Homo sapiens: one gene and its partners. The protein of the gene in region 4 purifies or fractionates together with the protein of the main gene of each other region. This does not show direct contact. Each region holds a gene or a part of one and is shown on either strand. Other genes may lie near its edges. The genes, in order: REPS1, GULP1, HK3, DNAJC6, ACBD3, PEX2 and MYH13.

Region 1 (4,053 bases), on a different chromosome or scaffold from region 4:
TTGTCTTTGGTGAAATACCTATTCAATGGGCTTAAGCCTAAGAATGGGCTTTCGCCCAGTTTTTTTTTTTTCCTTATAAGTGAGTTGTAAGATTTTTCAAATATATTCTAGATTAAAGACCTTTACCATGTTTATAATATGCAAATATTTCTCCCCAATCTGTGGCTTATCTTTTTATACTTTCTTAAGTATCTTCTCAATTGTAAAAGTTTTAAAAATATTTAATAAAGCCCAATTATTTGTTTCTTTTCCTTTTCTTTTTTTTTTTTTGAGACAGGGTCTGGCTCTGTTGCCCAGGCTGGAGTCCATTGGCGCAATCTCGGGTCTCTCTGACCTCTGCCTCCCTGACCTCTGCCTCCCAGGCTTAAACCATCCTCCTGCCTCAGCCTCCCAAGTAGCTGGGACCACAGGTGCACACCACTATACCCAGCTAATTTATTTTATCTTTTTTTTTTACAGGCAGGGGTCTCCCTATGTTGCCCAGACTGGTCTCAAACTCCCGGGCTCAAGTGATCTGCCCGCCTCAACCTCACAAAGTGCTAGGATTACAGGCATAAGTCACTGTGCCCAGCCCTGTTTTGTAGTTTTAAATACAAAAATCTTGGTGACTCTTTTCTTAAGTTTATTCCCAAGTATGTTAGGCCTCTTTGAAGCTAATGTGAATGTATTTTTTTCTTACTTTCATATTAAGATTTTATGTTACTACTACACTGTTAATCCTGCCTCAGTTTGTAGAAAACAAATAAAAGCCATTAGGCCAGAACATCCTCCCACTAAATCTATATTCCACCCACTAAATCTATATTCCTACTTGCGTCTGTAACCATGTTGTTCTTTCTTCCCCACTGTTAAAACTGAGGAAGTGGCCGGGCACGGTGGCTCATGCCTGTAATCCCAGCACTTTGGGAGGCCAAGGCAGGCAGATCACGAGATCAGCAGTTCGAGACCAGCCTGGCCAACATGGTGAAACCCTGTCTCTACTAAGAAGACAAAAATCAGCCAGGCGTGGTGGTAGGCACCTGTAATCCCAGCAACTCTGATGGCTGAGGCAGGAGAATCGCTTCAACCCGGGAGGCGGAGGTTGCAGTGAGCCAAGACCAGGCCATTGCACTCCAGCCTGGGCGACAGAGCGAGAATCCATCACAAAAAAAAAAAAAAAAACAAAAAAAAAAAACTGAAGAAGTATCCCCTTCCTATCAAAGGACTCTGTGCAGTCAGGATCCTGACCACTCCTGCTTTCTCAAGGACTTCTCATCTCCCTTATCTTAGCAATCCTAACAACTAAAATCATTCTGCAGAATTTCTCACACTCAAAAAGAAACAAACAAAAAGATTTCCTTTATATCCTCATACATCTCTAGCTTCTACCCTGTATCTATTCCCTTTCATAGGTAAACTTCTTTAAAAGCTATCTATACACCCTGTCTCTAGTTCCTCAGCCATCATTTATCCCTCAAATCACTCAAATCTGGCATCCATCTACACTAGTCCATGAAACTGGCTCACTGAAGTTACTAATAACTTCCAGGTTGCCAAATCCAATGGCCACATTCCTGCCCACATGTTCTCAGCCTCTCAGTGAAATTCAATACAGCTGACTACCCACCCCCTTGAAATACTTGCATTATTTGGCATCCACGACATGATAATACTATATATTACACATTCCCAATTTGTACCACTCTGATTGTGTGCTTCCTAGCGTCCTTCCAAGAAGCCTTCCAGTTTACCCAACTTAGAAATGTTCAGCATTCCTCAGGATTCCAGTTCTAGTCAATCTTTCTCTCTTCTTTATAATCTTTTCTTCAATTATTTCATTACCTTAAGTATCACTAACATAGTGACAATCTTCAAACTGACATCTCTAAGCCAAGTATCTCTGAATTCCTCAAGATGTATAGATCTCTCTAACAGGCCTACTTGACAATCTTACAGGCTTCTGAGAACTAAGATAGACAAAAGGGGAACTGCTGAATTCACCCTTACCTCTCCCACGAAACAATCCCCCCCAAAATCCACTCCTCTTCCAACCATCCAATAGTGGCAACTTCCAGCAACATCCTTGAGTTCTTTCCCCTCCCTTATGTTCCATATCCAACCCTATTTATGCCTTCGTATTTCTACCACCTAAAAAATTCTCACAGATGTCCACTGCTCTCTATCCTACTGCCACCTCGCTAATCTAAGCCATTGCTGTCTGCTGCCTGGACTGTTGCATATCCACTAGCGTATCTGCTTCCACTTGCCCCCAGTATTCTTTTTGCTCATACAGCAGTCAGCATGATCTTTTAAAATATAATTCAGATGATGCTACACCCCCGAATAAAAACTTTTAGTATATTTCCACTAAAATCCAAATTCCTTATCACTGAGTACAAGGGCCTGCCTTATGCAGTCCCTGCCATTCTCCCCTCTTGTCCACAGTTTCAGTTCCTTAAACACACTGTGCTCTTCACAGCCTCAGGCCCTTCCCAGTTCTCTCTATATGAAACACCTTATTCTCCCTCCCCTGACCCCCCATCCAGGCATCCTCTAAGGGGCCTTCCCTTACACCTAAGTAGGTCCCCACTACCTCCTCTGATTCTACCACCCAATGATTCTCTATTATTGTACACAGTTCTTTTTTCCTTTTTTTTTTGTGGGTGGGGCGGGGGGGGGGGGGAACGGAGACTTGCTCTGTCACCCAGGCTGGAGTGCAATGACACTACTATGTTTACTATGTCTCATTGCAGCCTCAACTTCCCAGGCTCAAGTGATCCTCCTGCCTCTGCCTCTCAAGTAGCTGGGACTACAGGTGCAGGCCACCACGCCTGGCCAGTTCTTTTTCTTTTCGACATTGGCACAAGTCAGAGAAGATGTCTTGATCCTTCACCACTGCATGTATACCCCCAATACAAAGAACAGCCACAAAGAAGTCTTTGTTGAAAGTATTTAAAACTGATTTAAGACAGAAGTGTTTAGCATTTCACAGGTCAGCCTGCTCTTCCTTAAAACTGAATTAATGTAGAAGTCCATAAGATGAGCTTGACTCAATTAGGGGAAGGCTGGAAATCACAAATTAAGTGCAAAATTCTGTGGAACTATGTTTTCTAAGCAGATGTCCAGTGCGTGCAGCAGAATCTCAACGGAATCAACAGCCCAAAAGAGACAGACTAATAAATTCTGTCTTCATTATTTAATGAGACAGACCCCAAATTCAACACCTGGCTAATTCTTGAAACAAAATGCAGAAGAGATGTAGTATTCTTAATTTTAAAAAGCCTAAGTCTTAGAATTTATCAAATCTCAATGAAATCTGGTATACAGTTTAACTTCCATTAGACAAATTTCTTACACAGAGGGAAAAGATGAGTGAAGATGCATCTATAATAGGAAAGGCTACAGAAAATAAAACCTATATAAGGGAAAACATCAGAAATGACAAGTCTTATCACCCATTTCAAATTCTCACGACCTTGAAGAACTAAGCACCCATGGATTTATGACCCTTTCATCAGTTTCCTCTTGTATATATCTCCTCTTTGTATTCCTCAAAGAATGTCAAATAATCCTGTTCCAGTGTCAAGATAGTGGAGCAACTAACCACAAGACTTTGTGCTACTTTTAAAGGGGTGTGGCTGGAATAGATTAGCCGCTCCTACACAAAGATACTCTCATTTGAGTCAGAAATCATGAAAACCCAATCCCATAGCTATATCAGACATTCTGTGATTTGTTCAGGGTTACAAAGTTAGCTGATGCCAGAACTGGAACTTGCCTCCCACAGTTAGTGCTCTTTATACCAGCTTCTCATGCTCTTGTGTCGCTCCATCAAATGTTTGGCACGAATTCCCAATATACTAAAACTCTAACTCTGGGCTATTGATTAAAACAAACAAACAAACAAACAAAATGACTGAAACTAGCACAAGAAACTCAAGAAGACAGAAATTTTAAAAGTAAATAAATAGGACACTACAGAAACACATTGACTGTGACTTCTTTCACAAACAGTATCTTTTTCAACTGTGTATAGGTAAGTGATTATGGCAAGATTATTTCTGTAGTTTATTA
Region 2 (4,053 bases), on a different chromosome or scaffold from region 4:
GATGAAGCAGTGGGACTAGGAAGACCAAAACCAAAACTAAAATGTACACCATAAAACCTTGAGGGAACTTTTTAGAAGTCTTGAATATTTTTATTCAAGGCTTCAACCTAAAATTATTTAGTTTGCAATTCAAAATCCATCAGTATGACCAATTCATGTTCATGTATATAACATATAAGTGACTGACAAACTTTCTAAGAAATAGCAACCTTCCCTTAGAGTGTCTCTGAGGAAAGTAGAAACATGCACGTATGTTCTCACCTAAACAGAGACTCTTTAAAATACAAAGGTGTCCATGTAGATCATTCTACTGCATTGGGCCTCACATTTTAAATTTATGATTTAACATAGAATAAGGATATCAACATCAATAAGACTGTAATATATTATTAGACGATTTGGTAGATTTGAATCATTGTCTTGTATTACGGAAATTCAACTTTAACTTTGGACCTCTTGTTAGAGAAGATGGCTTGTCATTTTTTAGTTATCTAGCCAAGTTTTGTTGTTGTTGTTGTTTGTTTGTTTGTTTTTGAGACAGGGTCTTACTCTGTGACCCAGGCTGGAATATAGTGGCATGATCACGGCTCATTGCAACCTTGACCTCCCAGGCTTACCATAGCCTCCACCTCCCCGGCTCAAGCAATCTTTCCACCTCAACCTCCCAAGTAGCTGAGACTACAGGCATGCACCATCATGCCCAGCTAATTTTTGTATTTTTGGTAGAAATGGGGCTTTGCCATGTTGCCTAGGCTGGTCTCCAACTCCTGGACTCAAGCTATCAGCCTACCTCTGCCTCCCAAAGTGCTATGACTATAGGCATGAGCCACCATGCCCAGCCTAATCAAATTTTATCAAGAATGTTTCTGTTGCTTGCCACATCTGGCTTCATCTTCTACTTCATCATAAACTGAAAATAAAATAATATCTATAATAGTGATTTACATTATTTTTATTTTCACTTTACTTTTAATTCCACAACTCCCAAAATTCCATTCCTACTTTTTTTCTTTCCCTTTCCCCAAAGAGACTATACTAAAGCTAAGATTAAATATGTCTTTTATTTGACTAGCAATTGCTTAGTGTGAACTATATTGTGTTAGACCAGCATATCCAGATATTTTAGAACATTATTGTGCTTATAAGTATATATTTGTGAACCAAATTATAGCATTAAATCATTTATAAAGAACTACACCTCAATTAGAGATTTTTGACAAAAGTGTCACCTTTCTGTGACTTGAAAAATTTGGCTTCCAATGGGATCAAGACCTGTCTTGGGCTGGTCAGTTGTGAAGAGTTTTCTGTGTTAGGGGCTCCTCTCACCACTAAAAACTCATCAGATGCTAAATTAATTGCATACACCATACCCACCTATGTTGTAATTCAATATGCATCACGGGATTCATAATTTACTTCAATGCTTCTTTAATGAATGTGTAGATCACTGCCTCTAATCCTTTGAATAAACTGATGAGAACTTACTCATTTTGGAGCACTCTAATCCTCAGTCCTCTGAGCTCAAAACAAACACATAAAACCCACAGAGTCCTATTTCCAGGGTTATAAACTCATTAAACATTTACTTTGCTAGCCATGGGGGCACTCTGTGAGGTACTTTGTGTTCCTGCTGTGTGTCCTGTAAAACTGATGTTCAAATTTCATAAGAAAGAACAGATGTAAAACATTTCTAACTTAACAGAAATTTGCTTTATTGCAGACACATGGTAAGCTATTAAATATTTTAAATTCACATTTTATTATTTGCAATTTGCATTGTCTGTTTTTCAAATTCAATAATCTGAATCATTAATAAATCTTCAAAAATAATTGCAGGTAACTATTTTTGTTTTATTTTAATATCAGGAATTTGGGAGCTCATTTGAATAGATATGAGATAAATAAGCTGTACTTAAGTGTTCTACGAGTTTATTTCATAGCTACATTACTAAAATTTGAAATGAAAGGCAAAAATGTTTTTTAATAGGAAACACATTAGCAAATGCTGTAACAATGTTTTTTAAACCATTTGAATTGGTTAGATATCTCATTAATTTACATTTTACATTTTAGCATTTAATTTTACATTTAAATTTTAGCAATTTTAAAATGCTCTTGAGTTCACTTTCTTCTAAAAATCAAATAAATTCTATTTTCACATATTTGTTGTGAGAACAATTAAAACTACTCTTGGCAATTTTCAAGTATATAATACCTTGTTATTAACTATAATCACCATGTTGTACAAGAGATCTCTTGAACTTATTTCTCCTAATTAAAATGTTGCATCCTTTGATCATCTTCTAGACCCTTTCTCCACAACTCTGCCCCAGCCCCCAGCAACCACTAGTCTACTCTCTGCTTCTATGAGTTTGACTTTCTTGGATTCCACATATGAGTGACATCACGTGATATTTGTCTTTCTGTGCATGGCTTATTTCACTTAGTATAATGTCCTCCAGATTCTATCTTAATGAAGATGTATATCTTCCAGCATATCAACAATTTAAAAAATCATATGATAAGATTTTAAGAGCTAAAAAGCCATGTGACAAATAATTTTTAAAGTTAAAGAAAAAGTGTAGACAACAACATTACATGACAAAAGACTATAAGTAGATTGCAAAGTTATAATTTGTTATTTCCATAATGATCAAGGATACAATAAATTTTCTACATATATATGAACTCAGTGTAAGACCGTGATTTAAAGAAAGTGATTTGTTTTTAAATTCAACCTCTTAGTTGTAGTTTTTGAAGCATTTTATTTAGATAAATCCAGGCTGAGATGAACACAATGCCTAAAATAATTGTTAAATGATGTAACCTCAGGAGTGCTAATTCATTTTAAAACATAGCTATTTCATTATTTTTACTCTTTATATATAACTGGCTCTACTAATGAGAATTGCTAAATAAATGAATTATACTTATGAATAGGCTATGTTTCATTTATATACCAACTTGCATGCTTTCCACTTGAAATGGCTATTTCAGCCAAATGGTCAAAGACACTGAAGCAAGGGTCATCTTGTCATTCCTCCTGTCCTTTGTCATTTCTGAAGCTGACTCAGTAACCCTATGAGATCACCAATGCACATTAATAATCCTGACCCACCTTCTTCTCAGAGCAGTGTCTGCTTTGGGAAGATAAAAAAGGTAGGCTGCAGTTTTATTAATATGTTTGAAACCTCTTTGCTCCTCTCAAATGTTCTTCCTCAGATAAAGAGGTTACACAATGACCAGGTTTGGATTTGCATCCAAGAAGGTGATGGAGCTTATTTTACTCCTTTGTCAACACAAAAATGAAAGCAAAGCTACTCTTCATATGTGATGAATTCCAGAAACAACTACGTTATCAAAACTCCTTGAAAAAGTTACTTCCCTTCACATAAATGAAGTACATTTATTCTTATTCTCCTAGCATATTTCGCAACATGGCTTACAATATGAATTTCAACAAAACCCAAGAGGATGTGTGTTCCATCTTGGGATGGAAGGTTGAATAATGAGTTTGAACTGATGTTCTGTCCCTAGCAGCGAGAGAGGCAAGAAAAAAATCATAATCCTGGTGAGCAGCAGACAGTGACAAGAAAAAATAAGAAGGAATATCAGAATAAAACCAGAACCTGAAGAGGATGCTCCAGCATAGATACATTGGTACCTCAGTCCCAACCTCTCTCATCAAGGCCATAGGAGCCCTACTGGCACAAACCATCTGCCAAGCAATGGAAATACTCACTCTTTCAAATGGGAGGTGGAAAAATGTGAGTTTACAGGAAAAATCATTTTTTGACCCATTTCCAGAGTGTGCCAAGTTTGAAACCCTAAATGAAACTTCTATAGAAACATCCTTTTTCATAGTGATGAGCTTGTGAATGATTCTAGTATTAGATATTAAGAAATGAACATTTTCATTGAGTTTATCCTACGTATTGAAGCACAATAAGCTTCCATAAAAAATTTTGCAACAAATTTCTTTTTTCAGTTCATGTTTATGTTATAAGTTAGATATTAATTTTTTTTGAAACAGAGTCTTTCTCTGTCACCCAG
Region 3 (4,053 bases), on a different chromosome or scaffold from region 4:
TGGAACCAAAGGTCAGGGCCCCCTGCCAGGTCACCTCTGAGCACCAGGATTCAGGGACTCATGGTCCAGGGTATGGTCGAAGGTGGTCAGCACTGGTCCCAGCGCCCCATCATCGCTGAAGGAGCCCCACTCGACGCTGACGCAGACGCGGCCCCGGTCTTCGTCCAGCACTGCCACATGCCGTGCCTCCTCCATGTAACACGCGTTGGTGCCCGTGTCTGGCAGAGACAACCCTGTCAAGGCCTGCTAGCCAGGCAGCACACCCTCCACCTGTCATCACAAATGGTCCATGGCTCACCTACAACTAGCCCAACCTCACACGGCCTGACCCCCGGCTCACAGCCCATCATGGTGCCCACTGTGTCGTTCACCACAGCAACCACGTCGATGTTGTAGGCCTAGATGATGAAGAGGGCAGAGGTCAAGGCTGGCCTGAGTGGCCAGAGGAGGGAATCCAGGGGATGGGCAGGGCTGGGGCCCTGGCTTTGAAGGAGATACATAGAGTCCATGAAACACATGTCTGCATGCCACACACATTTGTGCCACAGATGCTCTGGGCTCCCACCTTATAGGAACTTTTCCTCCAATCCCACCCTCAGCTCCTCCCTAACCCCCAACTTGCGCCCCCAGGTCACAGTGACGTCCACCCTCACCATCTCCCAGGACCAGGATGAGTTTCCTGAGACTGAGCACCTCCTTGAACTCTGCGCCTTGCCAGCCTCACTGTCATCCTGCCTGGCTCCCCAAGCCTGTTCCTCCCAGCACTGGCTTCTCACCACAAGAGGTTAGCCCAGACGGATCAGCCTTTGTCCAGCATCCAGACTCTTGTGTGTGGCCTTCTCTGAGACTAGATCATCCGCCCCAGCCCCAGCCTGACTTGAAGGGAGGCAAACTCCTCCTTCAAGCCCCTGATCAAAGAGCCAGTGCTTCCTCCGTAGTGCTCCCAGAGTTGTCCACGCACTCCTCCTTGACACGGACAATCTTTTATTAGAATGCTTCCCCATCTAGACTGTGAAAACCTTGAGGAGGAGGTCAAAGTCTATTCATGTTTTTTTGCCCCAGGTCCTGAATGTTTATTTGACCTTTCTTAGCCTCAGTGTTTTTTAACCTATACAATGGGAATGGTAGCAACATGTACCATGTATAGGTTAAACTGGATGGAGGTTAAACTGGATGGAGGACATGAAGAGAAGAGGAAAGCAACTCTCTCAGAAGCCCAGACCCAACGCATGTGTGCCAGGCCCAGGCCAACATGGGCAGCCCTCCTGTCACCCCTCCCTCCACTCACCCCCTGCCTCCGAATGGCATCTCTCAGCAGCTGGACCACATCCTGGCCTTCCACACCACTGCACCTAAAACCTTTGGTCCAGGAAATGAGGGTGCTCTGGAGGTAGAGAAGCTGGGTTACTCCTCTGACGGCCTTCATGGGGCTGCAGCCACCCTCTACCCAGCGTCCCATGTCCACTCCACCTCACCCTGTCCAAGCCCGTCTGGTGACAAGGGAAAGAGAAGCTGAAGCCAAGCTGCAGACCCTGTTTGTTCACAGGCTGCGCATCCAGGAACTCAGACAGGCAGTGGGCAGCAAAGTCAAAGAGCTGCAGGAGAAGTGGGGGGGCTCAGCCTTGCCCATCTGAGCCCTAGCCACCCAGCCAGGCCCCCAGACCCCAGAGGCTGGGCAGTGAGTGCTTACCTGCTGGCCAGCACCCAGCATCACCTCTTGGGGGATCACAAACTCCTGGCTTCTGGGCTCCACCCTATGCCCCTCAATGCCAGTTAGAGTCACCCACAAAACACGCAGTGAGGCCCCTGTGGCCCCCAGCTCCAGCACCACGAAGTCTCCTTGCTCTGGAGGGCAAGCAGGTCACAGAAAGCCATGCAGCTGGCAAGACCAGAGCCCTCTGCCCACTTCCCAAATTCCTAAGGCCTGCAAAGTCTGGTCAAGGGGCCATAGAGATGGGGGACAGGAATAAGGAACGTTTCCCTCCCCTAGATCAGTACCCTCTTCCAGGCCTGGCCACGCATCTCAATCTATGATACCCACCAGTGCCATGTGGGGTGGACCCCACGTATGTAGGCAGCATCCGGACCGCAGGGGCAGGGCTGGCCTGTCCCCTCAGCGCCTGCTCCATGGAACCCAAGAGGCTGGCTTGGATCTGCTGTAGCTGTGCCCTTGTCACCTTGAACTGCTGCAGGCACTCCTGCACCTGGGGAGAAACAGGCCAACATCTGGGAAGGAGCACCATTGGGCTGGCCAGACTCCCCACCTCCAAACAAGGCAGAGGCCTGCCCTGCCCAGCCCACTCCTCGGCTCTTCATACACCCTGACTCTCTTGCCAACAGCCTGCACCCAGCTCTGGCATCCTCAGAAGGCTCTGTCCTGGAAAGAGAACCCACCTTCTTCCTCCTCCTGCCCCATTACCTCACGGCTCCTTCTCAATTTCTTACATCCTCTACCCTACCCCTCCTCTTCTTTGAATTCAGGGTTTGGCAAGACCTTCTTCCTGCCATACCACTAATGATTGCTCTCTGGCTCCCCAGGACCCACAGCAAGAGTCTCTCAGTGAGTTGTTGTTGAACGAACAAGAGAATAAACAAATGCACGAACAAACTTCAAGTGTTTCCCTCTCCTAATCCACTCTCAGACTCTGAAGCCTGAAAAAGCCCAGCACGAGAGCATTTGGAGACCACACTGCAGAGGATGGTCCTTTTTTCAGTCAGTCATCCTTCCCAAAACATTGCTCCAGCCCTCACTATGCACCCAGCTGTATTCTAAGCACCGCACACACATAACCACCCAAGAAGCAACAAATGCTTTAGATTCCAGGGTGGGAGACAGAAATTAAGCACGTGAACATACAATTTGGTTCCAGTAGTGATGGTGGCTATTAAACGTAGGGGGGCAGGATAAGAAATTAGAGAGTGACCAGGGTAGAAAGAGGTATTTTTAGATATGAGTTCAAGAGGGTTTCCCTGAGGAGGTGATCTAAATGAAGGAAGGGAACAAGCCATTCGAAGATCCAGGGGAAGAGCAAGGGGATGGATTTGGAGAAGACTGATCCGGGAGTGGATCGGAGTCTGAAGGGGCAGGTGAGAAGGCAGGGAAGGCAGAAGCCAGGACACCCCAGGCTGTCACTCCACCAGAAGCCCAGTAGCTTAAGAGCCCCAGGGACCTCATCCCTGTGAGCAAATACCCTCCCCTAGATGACTCTCTCACCCATCCTTCAAAGAAGCCCCAACAGCCTCCCTGGATTCATTGAAGGGTCACAGCCTGGCAACTCCATCCTCCTCAGGCTCAGACTTTCCAAAGCCCCCACTTCCTGTCACACAGGAGTTCCATTTCAATGACCTATTGCCCCAAACTGGACACTTATCTTTGGAATAACAACTCAGGCACCTGGATAATAAGGCCGCTCCAGGGAGGAGAGGCTGGGAGGAGAAGCTGCCAGTTGAGGGAGATAAGGACAACTCAGTCCCACCTCTTGCTTTAGGAAGAGAATGGGAAACAGATCCCTAAGAAGGCGAATCATCCTAACTGGGGTGCCAGATGTCCACTTACACGTTTGCCTTACAGCACATGCTTCCAGCAGCCATGCCTGCTAGGGGTGCCCATGCCCACTCTATCTCACCCTGACCAGGCCTATCTGGTGACAAGGGAAAGAGAAGCTGAAGCCAAGCTGCAGACCCTGTTTGCTCACAGGCTGCACATCCAGGAACTCAGGCAGTGGGCAGCAAAGTCAAAGAGCTGCAGGACAGGCGGGGTCTCAGCCTTGCCCCTCTGAGCCCCAGCTGCCCAAGTGTTAGAAATATGGAAACGGAGACTCCGAGAGGGCAAGTCATCTGCAGGGCCAAGCAGCTGTGAAGGGGCAGGGGAGAATTTGAACCCATATCTACCTGAATGCAGAGATGTTTCTATGTCAATGTGAAGCTTTATAAAACCTAGAAAGTTCCCTTGAAAAGAACTCAAGGCTGATGAAAGTTGCTGGAAAGAAACCCCAGATGATCCGGCTTGAGAAAACTTACAGCTGAGTCCTCGCACTCCCTTTTTCTGGCTCT
Region 4 (4,053 bases):
ATATCATGGTTTCATTTGAAAAAGGGCCATAACATCCCCTGATTTACTTGTACTTTTCTATGATTACCACTGATGTTGAACATTTTTTATATATCAGCTATTTCACAATGATATAGTCTTGCAGGAAGAATATGATTCAACTCATTCCTGCTCATTTACATGAGAATTGAGAAGTACATAGGAAGAAGTAAAGTATCATGACTTACTTCATTCGTTCAAAATCTGTGCAAGTCGAATATATTTTGGTTTCTCCAATGAGTACATCACAGTAAGGGCGACATCCATTCCTCTGTTTGTTGAAAAAGGGTATTGGACTGACAGTGATCGACTTAATTGTGAGAGGCTTGAAGTGAGGGCGGTAGGGCTTGTCTGCCAGTAGGTCACACATATAGCCCAGGTATCTGAAACAGAAGGTTGGCACTCTCTTGGGGCCCATCACATCAGGAGAAGCAAGCAATCAATATTTGCTATGAAGATTCTTCTTGCAAATTACTGTTATAATAAAAACTTATTCTATCAATTTCTTAAATATTAACTAGCAAAAGATAATGCGATCAATAATTTAGGAAACATTTTATCTACTGAGATTGCTGTACTTCCCCAATGAACTGATACTGGGGTATTTATTAAATCAAAAAGCTTATGGGAATTTTATAGTACTTCAATATTTGAACATCTATTCCTATTTTATCTAGCAGATCCAATTTATCAGCTAAAATTTGGCTTTGGATAAATTTTAGAATTTTATCATCAGAAGCACTTTTAATCCAAAAAATTAAGGAGATGTAGTTTTTAAAAAAATGAAGAAATTGTGATAAAAGAAAAATCAATGTTATCTAAAAACAGTTTTCTTTTTTATTCCATTTTTCAGATTATCTTTTGTAATCTTTTATTTCTATATCAGAGTTACATGAAAAAGTGAATTTTAAAACGCTTTATTCTCTATGTATTTTTGCATTTCCCTTTGTTAAATCAGGTTTCCCACAGGAGGATCACCAGTGATAAGTATAACCAGCTACTGCTGTTTTTCAATAAAGACCTGTATAATAAAACAAAAAGGGACTGGTCTTAGAGCTTGGGATCAAGAATGCTGTTCTGGCTCTGTCCACTGGGCATTAGACCTGAGGCAAATCACAACCTGTCTTGAGTCCCAGTTTCCTCACCTGTAAAATGAGGGAAGTTGGATATAAGTATTCTTTAAAGTTTCCTTCTAGTTTTAACATCATAAATTTTCGTATGGGGGCTTACAAACTGAATGACAATCTAATATCCTAATCCAATTCAGTTTTTGCATAGTTCAGGATAATGTCAGATTGATGTGGTTTGGCTATGTCCCCATCCAAATCTCATCTTGAATTGTAGCTCCCATAATCCCCAACGTGTTGTGGGAGGGATCCGGTGGGAGGTAATTGAATCATGGGGGCGGGTTTTCCCATGCTGTTCTCATGATAGTGAATAAGTCTCATGAGATCTGATGGTTTCATAAAGGGCAGTTTCCCTGCACACGCTCTCTTCCCCGCCACCATGTAAGATGTGCCTTTGCTCCTCCTTCCCCTTCCACCATGATTGTGAGGCTTCCCCAGCCATGTGGAACTGTGAATCCATTGAAACTCTTTTTCTTTATAAATTACCCAGTCTCAAGTAGTTCTTCATAGCAATATTAAAATGGACTAATACAGAGATAAAGTAAAAGAAACTTATGAAAGGATTTGTAAGGCAGATTTAAAACAGTACATGATACCAATTAGACTACATCTGTGCCTAGCCTGCATCTAGCTTACTTTACCTCCTATGGGATGGTGAAAGTCCAATTCCTGGTCGCTTTGCATATAGCAATCGAATGGCTGGGCCAGGAGTAGAGTAGAGATTACAGAAAATGAACATAGCACCAACCAGAATTGATGATGCCGCCCGTCCATCCTGTCAAAGAAAATGCATAAAATCATTATGAACATGATCAAATCAGCCATTCTCCATTGAAAATGGCAGAATTTGCAATTAAGAGACAGAGAGAGGAGAAATCCTCTTAACTGTGGGTGCTTTTCATTTAAAAATTATTCACTTGAAAACCAAAATTTGTTTCAGCTTTTTAAATCAAAGGCAGCAAGGAAAGACTTATCCTTAGAATAAAATTGATTCTAATCTGAGAAGCCCAATTTGATTTGTATATATTTGGTGAAAAATAATATAATCTTCAAAGTAATTTTGGACTTGTTGAATTAATAGTTGAAGTCTCTTGGTTTAGGACTGGAAGTAACGAGCTCACAGGTTAGGTAAATGCTGCTTGTTGGGATATGGCATATATGTATCTCATGCAAAGTATGTTCCTAGATTCGTATAAAATAAAGAACCTTCACCAGATTCAACTTCATTCAATGTAGAAATAAATCTGTTGTGGACTGAATGTTTGTATGCCCCAGAATTCATATGCTGAAATCCTAACCCCAATGTGATGGTATTAGGAGGTGGAGCTTTGGGGAGGTAATGAGGTAGGGAGAGTGGAGATCTCATGAATGGGAATTGTGCCCTTATAAGAACAGACAAAAGAGCTTGCTGTCAACTCCCTCTGCCCTTGGCCAATGTGAAAAACAAGAAGACAGCCATCTGCCACCCCAGAAGCAGGCCCTCACCAGACATTACAAGTGCAGGCACCTTGGTTGGGCACAGTGGCTCATGTCTGTAATCCCAGCACTTTGAGAGGCCAAGGCGAGCAGATTGCCTAAGCTCAGGAGGTCGAGACCAGCCTGGGCAACATGGTGAAACCCCAACTCTTCGAAAAGAAAAAAAGAAAGAAAAGAACTGCAGTCACCTTGATCTTGGACTTTCCAGCCTCCAGAACTACATTCCTGTTGTTTAAGCCACCCGGTCTATGGTATATTTGTTACAGCAGCTCAAGCTAATTAAGACAAAATTCAGTAACATCCCTGACAGATGTGACCTAGCTTCTTCTAGAACACTTTAAGTGACAGGGAGATTACTCATACTTGAAGTAGCCCATTCCAGTTTACAGAGCTCTTCCTTATACTGAATATGTTGAGTTGACTTTCATTCCTCCATAGCTTCCACTAAATGACCCTCATCCTTTTGTGAGAACAAAAAATAAACCTACTCCTTTCTTCCTATGGCAGTCCTTCACATATCTGAAATACCCTCCCTTTCTATCAATGCTTCTATTTCCCTTTTAAAACAAACTCAATCCCTTCTATTCTTCCTCACTTGATTTTCCATTTTAAGAGACATCATCATTTAGCACATTTCTTCTAAACAAATTCAAGTTTTAAAATGACAACCTTAAATGCTGCCCAGATGTGAAATGAAAGATATGAGATATATTCTGACCAAACTAGAGAAGAAATATCATCTTCTTTATTCTGGACACTATGCTTTTATTAACATAACCCCAGCCCAAGCTAGTATAAATGTAGGCTAAGTAACAACATAAGCTTTTATTATTCTCTCTATCCACTAAAACCCCTAGATTTTTTCCAGATGACATGTTAAGGTAATGTGCAAATATGTTTAATTTTTTAAAACCAGAATTCAGGACTTTACATTTATCTTGTATTTAATTTCATATTATTAATTTTTGTTAAGTGACCAACCTACAAGAACTTTTAAAATCCAAATTCACTATGTGACCCTTATAATTCTAAGAAAATTGATAAGCTGAATTTCCACATCTTCATCAAAGTTGTTGATTAAAATGAATAACTAAATAAAGCCTTCTCCCAGGAGAAAGGTGATCCATTAATCACCTACCTTTGGAAGCAGATATTCAGCCTCAACTCAACTAAATATATAACAACCTAGCCAAATTTCTCAATCTTGACTAGAAAAAACTAAGAAATATCTTGCAGGACTCCAATAAACTATCTCAACTAGTCTATTAGTCATGTGAAATGTTCTGTTGGTTTGATATGTGCTCATAACAAACCAATGGAGATTCCTTTTTTGCTAAGAGTTTAAAATCTTCTGTGCAAAACTTTCTCAGAATTGTGCCTTGAATTACCACCAGGTTCACAAGCCTACAACTTTCCAGGATCAACCTCCTTC
Region 5 (4,053 bases), about 160 Mb from region 4:
CTGAACTATGGCTAGTTACTCAGGTCCTCATGTTCCAGGACCACTATTAGGGTCTATGCCAGACTCACAGTAAAGACACTCAACCCATACAACTCCCAAATACCCTTATGACAATATAACATCATCGGTTGCTTCGATAACACATATTTTCTCTCACAATTGCCTGTGCAATTCTCAAGTCTGCCTAAAAGATCACCCAAAAGTTACTTTACACCTTAGAGGCTAACTAATGCAAAATTCATTTGCGACTGTTAAAAAAGAACTTGGGTTCCAATGAAACTAAAAACTCTCTCTAAGGCTGAATTCTAGGGTTGTCTATCGTACCTGTTGCTGTGCAAGCTGGACTTGATACAACTGCTGCATGTACTGCTGATAGTGTTGCTCCTGCAACTGGCGGATGAGAATTTGCTGCTGTTCGTAGTTCCCTGGATACTGTTGGGCTGCATACTGCTGGAACTGCACGGCAGTCTGGGAGTTTAAAGCTGCCATTATCTGCTGCCTAAAAACATTAAAAATATATATACTAGTCTGGCTACAGGAGATTGTTCATGACAAAATAAAATGTCCTTATTACTTACTTTTACAGTCTGTAACTCTTAAAAACAACTAAGCTAGTAATGTACACCAATTAGTATGTGTTCTGGGTCCAGAAGAAAGATTTAAGAAAATAAGCCTGGCCTCTAATTTTTTACTTAGGATTTTCCAGGAAAATTCGGGATGGAAGATAAGCATATGATCATCATCATCATGACCACCATCATAATTATTAACATTTATTGTGCCCTTACTATGTGCCATGCAGTGTTGAAAGTACTCACACATACTAACCCATTTAGTCCTCACAACAACCCTCTGACAGAGGGTTCAGTAACTTGCCCAAGACTATACTGCTAGCAGATGCTACAGCCTGATGCAAATCCAGGCAGTTTGGCTCTAGAGCTACACTAATTTACCACGATGCTTTAAGATGATGGATTGTCATCTCTGACATAGATGAGGTATTTAACTGTTGGCTATGGCTTCTGTACCTAAATACATAAAAAACAGTAAGAGGCAGAAGAATAGCTGGAAGATGTTACAGGTGGCCCTGGTAAGTATAAATAAAGCCAGTGAAAAATTAAGGGTCCACAGCATTTAATTTAAAGCCTGTCTTAATAGAGGAAATACTGAAAATATCTTGGCATGCTTAGTTTAGAGATACTCATATTCTTTTATAGATAAACCACATGCTTCTTCTTTTTTTTTTTTTTGAGACGGAGTTTCACTCTGTCACCCATGCTGGAGTGCAGTGGCGTGATCTCAGCTCACTGCAACCTCCACTTCCTAGGTTCAAGCGATTCTCCTGCCTCAGCCTCCCAAGTAGCTGGGATTACAGGCACCTGCTACCACGCCTGGCTAATCTTTATATTTTTAGTAAAGACGGTTTCACCATGTTGGCCAGGCTCGTTTCAAACCCCTGACCTCAATCAAGTGATCCGCCCGCCTCGGCCTCCCAAAGTGCTGGGATTACAGGCATGAGCCACCACAGCCAGCAACCACATGCTTCTTAACTTACTTATGTGACCAACTTAACAGAGACCTCAAAGCCATCTATTAATAGATAACAAAGCAAAGCCTCACAAACTCCTACATACAGCACAACATTCGATCCACCTAGGACAACCTCCCCCAAAAAAGAGCTGCATTCATAGTCTTTCTCCAAAGTTGAATGAGGGCCTGGATTAGTTTGAGGCTAGCACTAAACCTTTTTCTGAGGAACTACCCAGAAATAATGAGAAGAAATCAATGGACTCTCATGTTCTCTGGTTTAACCTACAAGCCATGCCACCCCTACAAACTCAGACTTACTTCCCAGTGTTTTATGGGTGTTAATCACTGCCTCCTTGTACCCACAGCTCCCTCTTGAAGAACCTGTCAGTCTCTGAGTCTCAAAGCCCTTACTGAGTAAGCAATAGTTGAAGCCTCCAAATCTTGTACTAAGGACTATAAATGGATATCTGACATAGACTGGACCAACAAGATTCTCTGTCCTGGGAAACTGCAACTGGGTCTCACAGATTCCAGCCAGTCTCTGTCAGATGCATGGAAACATAGACCAAATAAATCCTCGGACAGCCTTGCATATGCCAAAGCAGACAGTTGACAATTTGCAGAGAGCAAGGATGAAGCAGAGACATAAGCTGAGAGAAGCAGAGACAAGAAACAGAGAGCGCAACCAAGCAACCTCAGCTCCTGCTTCCAATCTCTGGGTTCTGCAAGTGAACCCCCAAACCTTCTAATACATTCCTTTTTTTTTTTGAGACGGAGTTTCACTCATTACCCAGGCTGGAGTGCAATGGCGCGATCTCGGCTCACTGCAACCTCCACCTCCTGGGTTCAAGAGATTCTCCTGCCTCAGCCTCCTGAGTAGGTGGGATTACAGGCATATGCCACTGCGCCCAGCTAATTTTTTGTATTTTTAATAGAAACAGGGTTTCACTGTGTTAGCCAGGATAGTCTCCATCTCCCAACCTCAGGTGATCTCCCAACCTCAGGTGATCTGCCCGCCTCCGCCTCCCAAAGTGCTGGGATTACAGGCGTGAACCACCACACCTGGCCCGCTCATTTCTTATTTTTATTCTATTTTTTTTCCATTTCTCATTTTAAAACATAAGCCACATAATAAACTTACTTTTGCTGCTCCAACCGAAGCCTTTCTTCTTCTATCCGTCTCCTTTCCTCTTCCTCCCGTCGAAGCCTTTCCTCTTCTTCTCTCCTACGTTTCTCTTCCTCCTTTTGCAGACGTTCTCTTTCTTCCTCTTCACGCCGCCTTCGCTCCTCTTCCTCCTTCCTACAAGGCAAAGATAGAGAATGAACCCTATACGTTGAATCCTGTTTAAAAATAAAACTTTAGCTCCCAGGGAAAACTGACATGACCTTTTTAGAGAACAATGTGGATATATACATCAAAATTTAAAATACATACACTTTACTAGCAGAAACTTATAGGGAATCAATCGCACAATATACAAATCACATCAAGAATAATTATTGTTGCACAGCAACAGAAATGTGTCCATCATAAGAAACTACTTAAGTCATTATGATATTCCTATACCCTGAAGGATCCCCTCTAATATATGCTCACAGCACTAAAAGCTTTTCCTTCATAATACCTGCTGTCATTATAATTAAATTTGTGTGATACATTCAGCAATAGATCTGCATTACCCATTAAACTAGATGCTCCATAGGGGAAGAGACTGCCTATCTCACACCACGACATCCTCAGGGCTTAGCACAGTGCTGGAAAGAACAAGCACTCGACAAACGTGTACAGAAGTAAAAAATCCACCCTGAAATATCGCAGAGCCAAAGGATAGAAATACATTGCCTAATATGTAAAGACATGTAATACACTTGCTTAATGAAAAAAAAAAAGGTGAATACAAAGGAAAAGATCTGGAAGGACATACCCTAAATTTATCAGTTATTATCTATGCAGAGGAGAGTGGAATTAAAAGAAATGTGGGAAAAAAGATTTTTTTCAGTTTGTGTTTCATATACTGCCATAAATGAAAATTTTATATTGCATATATTTGTGTATTATTTCTGAAATTAAAATTTTTTGTAAAGCTTTTAATTTAAAAAAGAACGGTTAACCTCTCAGGGCAGCCCTTGCCCAGCTTTCACCCACCCCACAAGACCCTTCCAAAAAGAACAGATCCTATTGTGCTAGGAATGGACATCTTCCGGGTCTGAGAGTGGTATGGTGTTCAGGGAGCCTGCAGACAGGATGAAAGGGAAGATTTCTAAGGAGTATCAGATAAGACACTATTTCATAAACCTACCACGAGAATTGTCTGGGCTACCTCACCTTTCTCCCCTCTAACTCCTATAAGTGATTAACAACTACCTGAGCCACAGCCAAGTCTCAAAATATTGTAATAACATGACCTATTTTTTTTTTTTTTTTGAGACAGGGTCTCACTCTGTCACCCAGACTGGAGTGCAGTGGCACATTCTTGGCTCACTGCAACCTCCGCCTCCCAGGCTCAAATGATCCTCCCACCT
Region 6 (4,053 bases), on a different chromosome or scaffold from region 4:
TTATAAAGTACAGGCAGAGTAGTTCTAGCATAATTCTTAAGGGTCTTTGAATTTTTAGAATGGTAAATAAGCACTGGCTTCAACTTAAGAGCCACCAGCTACATTAACCCACAACAGGAGAGTCAGCCTGTCCTTTGAAGCTCTGAAGCCACATATTGGCTTCTCCTCTCTAGCTATCAGTGTTACATGGCATTTTCTTCCAATATAAGCCTTTTGTCTATCTTGAAAATATATTGTCTAGCGTAGTCACCTTCATCAATTATTTAGCTAAAGCTTCTGGATAACTTGCTGCAGCTCTGATGTCAGCATTTGCTGCTTCAGCTTTCATGTTTATATCATAAATGGTTATTTCCTTAAATCTCACGAACCAACCTCTGCTAGCTTCCACCTTTTCTTCTGCAGATTCCTCACCTCTTTGTCTTAAAGAATTGAAGAGAGTTAGGAACTTGCTCTGGATTAGGCTTTGGCTTAAAGGAATTTTGTGGCTGGTTTGATCTTCTATCTAGACCACTAAAACTTGTCCCACATCATCAGCAATAAGGCTGTTCACTTTCTTTAATTCATGTGTTCCCTGGAGGATCACTTTTAATTTCCTTCAAGAACTTTTCCTCTGCATTCACAACTTGGCTGTTTGGTATAAAAGGTCTACCTTTTGGCCTGTGTTGGCTTCTGACATGGCTTCCTCACTAAGCTTAGCAAAATCTAGCAAAATCATTGCTAGATTTTGATTTAAAGTGAGAGATGTACAACCCTTCCTTTCACTTGAACACTTAAGAGGCCATTGTAGGCTTATCTTAATTGGCCTAATTTCAACATTGTTGTGTCTTAGGGAATAGGCAAGTCAGCAGAACAGTCAGAACACCCAATATTTGTTAAGTTCACCATCTTATATGGATACAGTTCTTGGTGCCCCAGAATATTTATAAGTTCACCATCTTATATGGATACAGTTCGTGGTGCCCCAGAACAGTTACAATAGTAATAACAAAGATCACTGATCACAGGTCACCACTAAGAATATCATAATAAAAAAAAGTCTGAAATATTGCCAAGAATTACCTAAACGTTACACAGAGACACCAAGTTGAGTAAATGCTGTTGGAAAAAAAATTGTGCAGATAAACTTGATTGACTCGGTTTGCTACAAACCTTTAATTTGTAAAAGCAGTATCTGCAAACCAGAAGAAAGCACAGTAAAATATAACGAGGTGTGAACTAGGCTATACCAAGTAGGTTTGTGTGAGTACACCCTATGATGTTCGCACAATGATGAAATCATCAAACTATGCGTTTCTCAGAATGTACCCCCTTGATAAGCAACTCATAACTGCATCTCTTCCTCAGGTTCCTTAGTGATATTTAGTGAGAAACTGGTCAGAGTGAGTGGTTTGTCAGAAGAATCATCTATTTCAAGTTTCTTGTTTTTGGAGGAATTACACTTAAAAACATTCAGTAAAAACAGGAATTTTTAATGACTGCCAGAAAAGGAGACCTAAAACGGTCTTTAACCAATACAATATTTAACAATATTTATTATCAAAAAATTCTTTCTTATCCCTTCTGTTACAGTTTAACATTTTTTTCTTTCTTCTTTTCCTCCCCAGGCCTGGCCTCAGTGTAGATTAGGAACAGCTGGGTTTGCTCTCCTCCCTACGTAAGACTCTTTAATAGACCAAAAGACTATTATTAAACTGTTCTTCAGCCTTTGCTCCTCCAGATGAATAATTTCTCTCTATTTTTTGTTTTAGGTTTTATTTTCCAACATTTTAGTCATTTTTGTGACTTCTTTTAGTTGTAAACATAGAACAGACACTGTCTATTACACACCATAGTTCATTAAAGTGGAATACTTCTCCCATGCTCTACATTCTTCTTTAGGCATCTGTCACAGAGTGGAAAAAGCAGATTTAAAATCAAACAGGCCTGGGCTCAAGTTCTAGCTCTGTCACTTACTTGCTATGAGATCTTAAAAAACTTCATTAGCCTCGGATTCTTCTCCTAAAAGTTGGAAATAACAGCTACCTCACAAAGTTGTTGAGATTAAACCAGATAATGTTACGAAAGTGGTTTAGAAGCCATAAAGCAGTATTATTTATTACATTATTGTTGCTTTGGCTAGGGATGAGCATGAAAAGTAACAGGCCCCAAACTAATTTTGGCAAATCTCATTTCGAAAGACTGAAACCTTCACTGTTAGTTATAGTAATGCCTCAATCAACCTGTATCAAAATGTTTTTCCAGGAAATATTGACATCATTAAGACATAAATTGTGGCAGTTAAACCACAAACATAATGTCACCCTTATGTGTGCACGTGGGAGGGGCCAGGCAGGAGTGGGCAGAGATATGATGGTTCAGTGGAACTCACTGCCCACTTAACTTGCACCTTGTCTGAAAGGATATGACACAGTGTGGATAGAGAAAAGAGATGGGTTCCCGCATGACCTGCTCCTGTCATTATTTAGCCCCTATCAACATAGTTGTGCCTGTTATCTTGAAGTAAAGAAACCTCATGAATGCACACTTACAATATTTGACTCTAGGGTGCTTTGCTGCACACAACATGGTACAGGCAGTCCAAGACAAGCAACAAACTTGTATTCATCACCAGCATATTACATTCAGTTCTTCCTCATCACACATACTCCCACCCCACTCCTCTCTTTCTGGCAGGTACAGCTATTCTAGAATACTCTCTTTAGAAAAGGGCAGCAAAGGAGTAGAAGAAAATGATGAAATCAAAATAACTAGAAATTCAATTAACCCAATTATGGAATCTTCTTCCCTCTACAGCAGTACAACAAGATTTGTTATAATAGGTATGAAGCATAAATGCCATAAACGACTTTATATCACATAAAATTATTCCCAATATAGTGTAAGCAGTTTGTGTTTTAGTGAATTCTAATTCTCTGACAAATGGTTACTCAATGTAACAAATATATACTGGACACCTATCAAATACAAGGCATTCTCCTAGGTACTAGAGATTCAATCTAAATATTTAACTGTCAGCTAGCTTCCTTTTATTCAAGCATTTTAAAAGACATAGGAAATCAGGACTGGCCATTGATCTCTGAAGTGAAGAATGGATCCCAAAACGTGAAAACATTATAAAAGATCACAAAACTTTCCAGGGAGAAAAGAGGAAAATGGTATGTAAGGCAAGGGAACAGGCTGTGTGAAAGCCCAGAAATAGCAAGCTCCTGACCATAGCCTAGCTGGGACATACGGACATGAGTTGCACCATGAGCTACATCCTTGGTTATTTAACCCCCGTCAATGTGGCTGCATCTGTTATCTGGAAGGAGACAAGTCATCTGTCATGACCAAAGCAGGCTGGCAGGAGAGACTGGCTGAAGTGTCAACCTAGCCACATTGTAAAAAGAACCTGTGTTAAGGAAATTGTATTGATTCTGTAGGCATGAATAATCATTGAAGAGAAGAGACATAATGGGATATAAATTTCAAAAGATTAATCTGACGGCAGAGTTCAATAAAACTGAAGAAAAGAAAAACTGCCGTTCTGGGAGACCAGATTTATAGGATTCCTGCAACAATTCAGGGGCCTACCTATGATGCTAACAACTTCCCTGAAAAGTCAAAGTAATTTAACTTACTTAAGAACCATGGAAATCAAGAGGAAGACTATACTATCCTTTCACATTTTTGGGTCAAAAATTCCCAGTGCTTTTGGTAAACTAGTACTCTCCTTACTTCTGTTACAAGGATTGCCAACACCCATGCCCAACCACTGGTAAGTCTATTTTGACTTTACCTTCAATCATTTAAGTAAGCTTTAACAATTTCTATATTATTGGTCATTGTAAATTAGTATTTAGTTTTATAAATGTAAGCTCAAACTTGAATATTTTTAAAAATTACAAGCTGCTTTTTGTAAAAAGAATTGCTTTGAATTGAACCACCATTAAATTTAATTCTAATAGATTTTTCCTATTCTACCTTTTCATACACAATCCTACCAGCCACCCACTCCTGCAATTCTCGACCTATACTAACTTTAAGATTCCAAAATGCTAACCCAGGGGAGGG
Region 7 (3,874 bases), on a different chromosome or scaffold from region 4:
TTGTTTCCACATTGTGGCTATTGTGAAGAGTGATGCAATAAACATGGAAGTGTAGATATCTCTTCAAGATCCTGATTCAGGCCAGGCGCGGTGGCTCACGCCTGTAATCCCAGCACTTTGGGAGGCCGAGGCGGGTGGATCATGAGGTCAGGAGATCGAGACCATCCTGGCTAACAAGGTGAAACCCCGTCTCTACTAAAAATACAAAAAATTAGCCGGGCGCGGTGGCGGGCGCCTGTAGTCCCAGCTCCTCGGGAGGCTGAGGCAGGAGAATGGCGTGAACCCGGGAAGCGGAGCTTGCAGTGAGCCGAGATTGCGCCACTGCAGTCCGCAGTCCGACCTGGGCGACAGAGCGAGACTCCGTCTCAAAAAAAAAAAAAAAAAAAAAAAAAAAAAAAAAAAAAAAAAAAAAAAAAAAGATCCTGATTCAATTTCCTTTGGATATATGCCCAGTAGTGGGATGGCTGGATCATATGGTAGTTCCATTTTTAAGTTTTTGAAAAACTGCTATTAGGTTGTACCAATTTGCATTCCCACCAGCAGTGCACAAGAGTTCCCTTTTCTCCACGTCCTCACCAACACTTTTGTCTTTCTGATAATAGCTATTCTGAGAGATGTAGAGTGATATAGGGTCTTTATTTTTAAATGTTTGTGGAAGCTAGTGATTTACCTGGCCATGGGTTGGATTTCCATGTTTTCTACTTGGAGCAAAGATCCTCCACTTTCACATTCCTTATTTTATATTTACGATAGAGCAGCAAGAATCTAAATATCAGCTTCATAGAAGAGGAATGGACCATGATAATAAACACAGCAGAGCCGGGAATCCGAGTATTTAGGAGAATTTATTTCTCACACATTTTCCCTCCACTCTCTCGGAGGTGTCCCATGGCAACGAGCATCAGGTGAGCCTCATTCTTCCATCTTCTGTGGGAGAAAAAAATAATTGTACATAGGAAATGAGTCAACTAAATGGGAGACTGAACATCATCTTGAAGTGAAGCAGCTGGAAAATCTGGAACTTCAGAGGAATATTAAGGAATGGCGTTGTTTCCCTTTGAACATTGTAAAAGCAAATCAATCTAGCTACTGGCGACAGGACAAACGCCCTGCAAAACAGGGGCTTCATGGGCAGCATCTGTAGCAACAGGGACAGACAGGGATGACAGTGTCGTGCCTCACTGCTCATTCTTTCAAGAGCCTGGAACCACAGGAGTCTTTGCTCAAACAGTAGCATTTGGGAGTGTGCAACCAGCAGCAGGAAGGAGAGGATCAACAGTCATCTTCCAAGCTCTCCCTGGGTGGTCCATGGGACTCCCCCGGGGCTTGGGATTTCTTGGGAAGAAGCCATACTCAGGTACTTGCTCTTCCCTGGCCCCCTACATCTCAGGTACCTGCTCTTACCTGGTCCCCACATCTCAGGTACCTGCCCTTATCTGGCCTCCCACACTCAGGCATTCGCTCTTACCTGGCCCCCATATTCAATATCTGTTCTTAGCTGGCCCCTATATCTCAGGTACCTGCTCTTACCTGGCTGCCCACGTCTCGGCTCTTGGCCCTCAGCTTGTTGACCTGGGACTCAGCGATGTCCGCCCTCTCCGCGGCCTCCTCTAGCTCATGCTGGACTCTCCGGCATCTGGACAGCTGCGTGTTGGCCTGCTCCTCCTGCACAGGAGACAGAGGGGGTATGACGCTGTAGAGCCTCTCAGTCCGATTATGAGGTGCCCTGTCTCTGAAGGCCTCTGAGGAGTTAAGCAACCAGGGCCCTGGATTCCCTGATGGCAGAGAGGGCAGGGAAGCTTTCTCCAGCGTGTGAGGACAAGGCTCCCAGCTCACGACCATGTGTACTGCCTCGGATCACCTTGCAGGTGCTACTGTCCCTTCTAGGACCTCCACATGTTCCCTTGAATCTCTTCTATATGGTATCTGCTCCATAGAGATCTTCGGGGGAGACCTAAGTCCAGAGCTCTCCCAAGGCACCTGAAGGTATAGAGACCAATGGCCCAAGTCTCCCTCGTCCTGTGCCTCTGCCCAGCACCATCTGTCTAAGGCCAGGCCACTGTACTGGTCTATTTGGGGGAATGTCAAGGATTCCTGACTAAAATGTCCTCCTGGGCACCCTCTAGCCTGCCGATCCTGCTGGGACTGTACTCATCCCATGTGCGTGAATTGCTCTCAATATTGAACCAGTTCAAATCTGCTTCCCTGAGGTCAGGATTGAACCAACCAGGCTCCAGGGAAGGGAGGAAAAAGAGCAATGGGAGAAGCTCAGTCATTTGTCCAGGGCAGACTCCCCTAAATTTTGGTCCTCAGAACAGTAGCCCTGAGGGATGCTCTGCATACAATAAGAAGGTTCTAAAGTCAATGAAGAGTGAGAAATGGTATATTCTGGAACCCTTCTTCCACTTTGTAGAGTTGATGACATATCAAACTCTACAACATCTACAAAATCTGAGATATCCTTGAAGTAAAGCAACCAGGGTAACTTTGTTTAACTCAGATTTTCCCAAACGATCTCTTTTCTATAAAAGGATAAGCTCCTCCCCATGGCAGCCCCACCTTCCTGCTATTAACATCCCTCAGAACCAGTGTCCTCAGAAGACACTTTGGGAAACACTGATTTTAGCCCATTCCATTTCTTTCCTATTGATTTCACCTATTTGATCAAAGGGTGGATGAAAAAGGATGGGATGGAGTGGAGGGAGTTAGGGAGGGCTGAGGAAGGCTGGAGATGCCTAGGAGGGTGGGCTGTGGTGGGATGGTGGGAATTAGGATGAGGTATCTCAGGTCAGGTCATGGGAGCAGGAATGGCTTTGAGGGTAGACTGGGGTGGTTCGGGAGAGTCAGGGTGATCCAACGCCAGCAGAGTAGGCTAACATGCTCTAGGGGGTGTCAAGTGAGTCACGGTGGGCAGGATGAAGGGGATGGAGGGGGCTGGCCAAGTAGGGTGAGGCAAGAGGGCACAGAGATGGTGAAGGTCGTGAAGGCTTAACATGGACCAGGAGAGGAAGAGGGCAGTTGTCTCTGTGTTTATAGCCTGCAAATACAAACTCAGGCCTGAGGCTCAGGGGACTTTACCAACCAGGATGGCGGGGACACCCAGGATGCCCCAGGGACTGTCTGTCTGTGGGCACTGCCGGGGACCTCCTGTGCTTACCGCCTCCTCAGCCTGCCTCTTGTAAGACTTCACTTTGGCCTGCAGCTTGTCCACCAGGTCCTGGAGCCTAAGGATATTCTTGTGGTCCTCCTCAGCCTGCAAACAGAGTACACGTGGCAGGGGCCCGCAAACCTATGGTCACTTCTGATGGGGCTTGGTCCATACAGCATTCACTGAGGAGGTTTTTGGGACCCCTACCTGGTAAGTCATCTCCTTGACTTTGCGTTCGTACTTGTGGGCTCCCTTCAGGGCTTCAGCTCCCCTCTTCTGTTCCACATCAAGCTCATTTTCCAGCTCCCGCACCTGAGTAGGATGAAAGGAACACAGAATTCAAATCTCCTCTCCCAGGCTTCTCTCATGGACTCATGGGCCAATCATTCTAGAGTGAACTCAAGATCCCCTAATGGTCATTAAAAAGTCAGGAAACAACAGATGCTGGAGAGGATGTGGAGAAATAGGAACACTTTTACACTGTTGGTGGGAGTGTAAATTAGTTCAACCATTGTGGAAGACAGTGTGGCAATTCCTCAAGGATGTAGAACTAGAAATACCATTTGACCCAGTAATCCCAATATTGGGTATATTCCCAAAGGATTATAAATCATTCTATGAAGACACATGCACATATATGTTTACTGAGGCACCGTTCACAATAGCAAAGCCTTGGAACCAACCCAAATGCCCATAAATGATAGACTGGATAAAGAAAATATGGCA

What was found.
Region 1: the proteins of DNAJC6 (region 4) and REPS1 purify together in Homo sapiens (affinity purification with mass spectrometry; one large-scale study listed by BioGRID and IntAct). This does not show direct contact.
Region 2: the proteins of DNAJC6 (region 4) and GULP1 purify together in Homo sapiens (affinity purification with mass spectrometry; one large-scale study listed by BioGRID and IntAct). This does not show direct contact.
Region 3: the proteins of DNAJC6 (region 4) and HK3 purify together in Homo sapiens (affinity purification with mass spectrometry; one large-scale study listed by BioGRID and IntAct). This does not show direct contact.
Region 5: the proteins of DNAJC6 (region 4) and ACBD3 purify together in Homo sapiens (affinity purification with mass spectrometry, with the first as the bait; one large-scale study listed by BioGRID). This does not show direct contact.
Region 6: the proteins of DNAJC6 (region 4) and PEX2 purify together in Homo sapiens (affinity purification with mass spectrometry, with the first as the bait; one large-scale study listed by BioGRID). This does not show direct contact.
Region 7: the proteins of DNAJC6 (region 4) and MYH13 purify together in Homo sapiens (affinity purification with mass spectrometry; one large-scale study listed by BioGRID and IntAct). This does not show direct contact.

What each region holds. Positions count from the first base shown.
Region 1 is NC_000006.12:138,978,037-138,982,089, forward strand, and holds part of REPS1 (ralBP1-associated Eps domain-containing protein 1), read right to left. Parts: intron 1-4,053. UniProt on the Homo sapiens protein: May coordinate the cellular actions of activated EGF receptors and Ral-GTPases.
Region 2 is NC_000002.12:188,571,130-188,575,182, reverse strand, and holds part of GULP1 (PTB domain-containing engulfment adapter protein 1), read right to left. Parts: intron 1-4,053. UniProt on the Homo sapiens protein: May function as an adapter protein. Required for efficient phagocytosis of apoptotic cells. Modulates cellular glycosphingolipid and cholesterol transport. May play a role in the internalization and endosomal trafficking of various LRP1 ligands, such as PSAP.
Region 3 is NC_000005.10:176,889,347-176,893,399, forward strand, and holds part of HK3 (hexokinase-3), read right to left. Parts: intron 2,205-4,053; coding exon 2,042-2,204; intron 1,846-2,041; coding exon 1,691-1,845; intron 1,596-1,690; coding exon 1,476-1,595; intron 1,385-1,475; coding exon 1,289-1,384; intron 399-1,288; coding exon 299-398; intron 219-298; coding exon 35-218; intron 1-34. UniProt on the Homo sapiens protein: Catalyzes the phosphorylation of hexose, such as D-glucose and D-fructose, to hexose 6-phosphate (D-glucose 6-phosphate and D-fructose 6-phosphate, respectively).
Region 4 is NC_000001.11:65,382,060-65,386,112, reverse strand, and holds part of DNAJC6 (auxilin), read right to left. Parts: intron 1,921-4,053; coding exon 1,787-1,920; intron 402-1,786; coding exon 207-401; intron 1-206. UniProt on the Homo sapiens protein: May act as a protein phosphatase and/or a lipid phosphatase.
Region 5 is NC_000001.11:226,158,860-226,162,912, forward strand, and holds part of ACBD3 (Golgi resident protein GCP60), read right to left. Parts: intron 2,831-4,053; coding exon 2,672-2,830; intron 500-2,671; coding exon 325-499; intron 1-324. UniProt on the Homo sapiens protein: Involved in the maintenance of Golgi structure by interacting with giantin, affecting protein transport between the endoplasmic reticulum and Golgi. Involved in hormone-induced steroid biosynthesis in testicular Leydig cells.
Region 6 is NC_000008.11:76,989,785-76,993,837, forward strand, and holds part of PEX2 (peroxisome biogenesis factor 2), read right to left. Parts: intron 1-4,053. UniProt on the Homo sapiens protein: E3 ubiquitin-protein ligase component of a retrotranslocation channel required for peroxisome organization by mediating export of the PEX5 receptor from peroxisomes to the cytosol, thereby promoting PEX5 recycling.
Region 7 is NC_000017.11:10,300,039-10,303,912, forward strand, and holds the end of MYH13 (myosin-13), read right to left. Parts: intron 3,461-3,874; coding exon 3,356-3,460; intron 3,254-3,355; coding exon 3,158-3,253; intron 1,666-3,157; coding exon 1,531-1,665; intron 928-1,530; coding exon 913-927; 3' UTR 827-912; downstream 1-826. UniProt on the Homo sapiens protein: Fast twitching myosin mediating the high-velocity and low-tension contractions of specific striated muscles.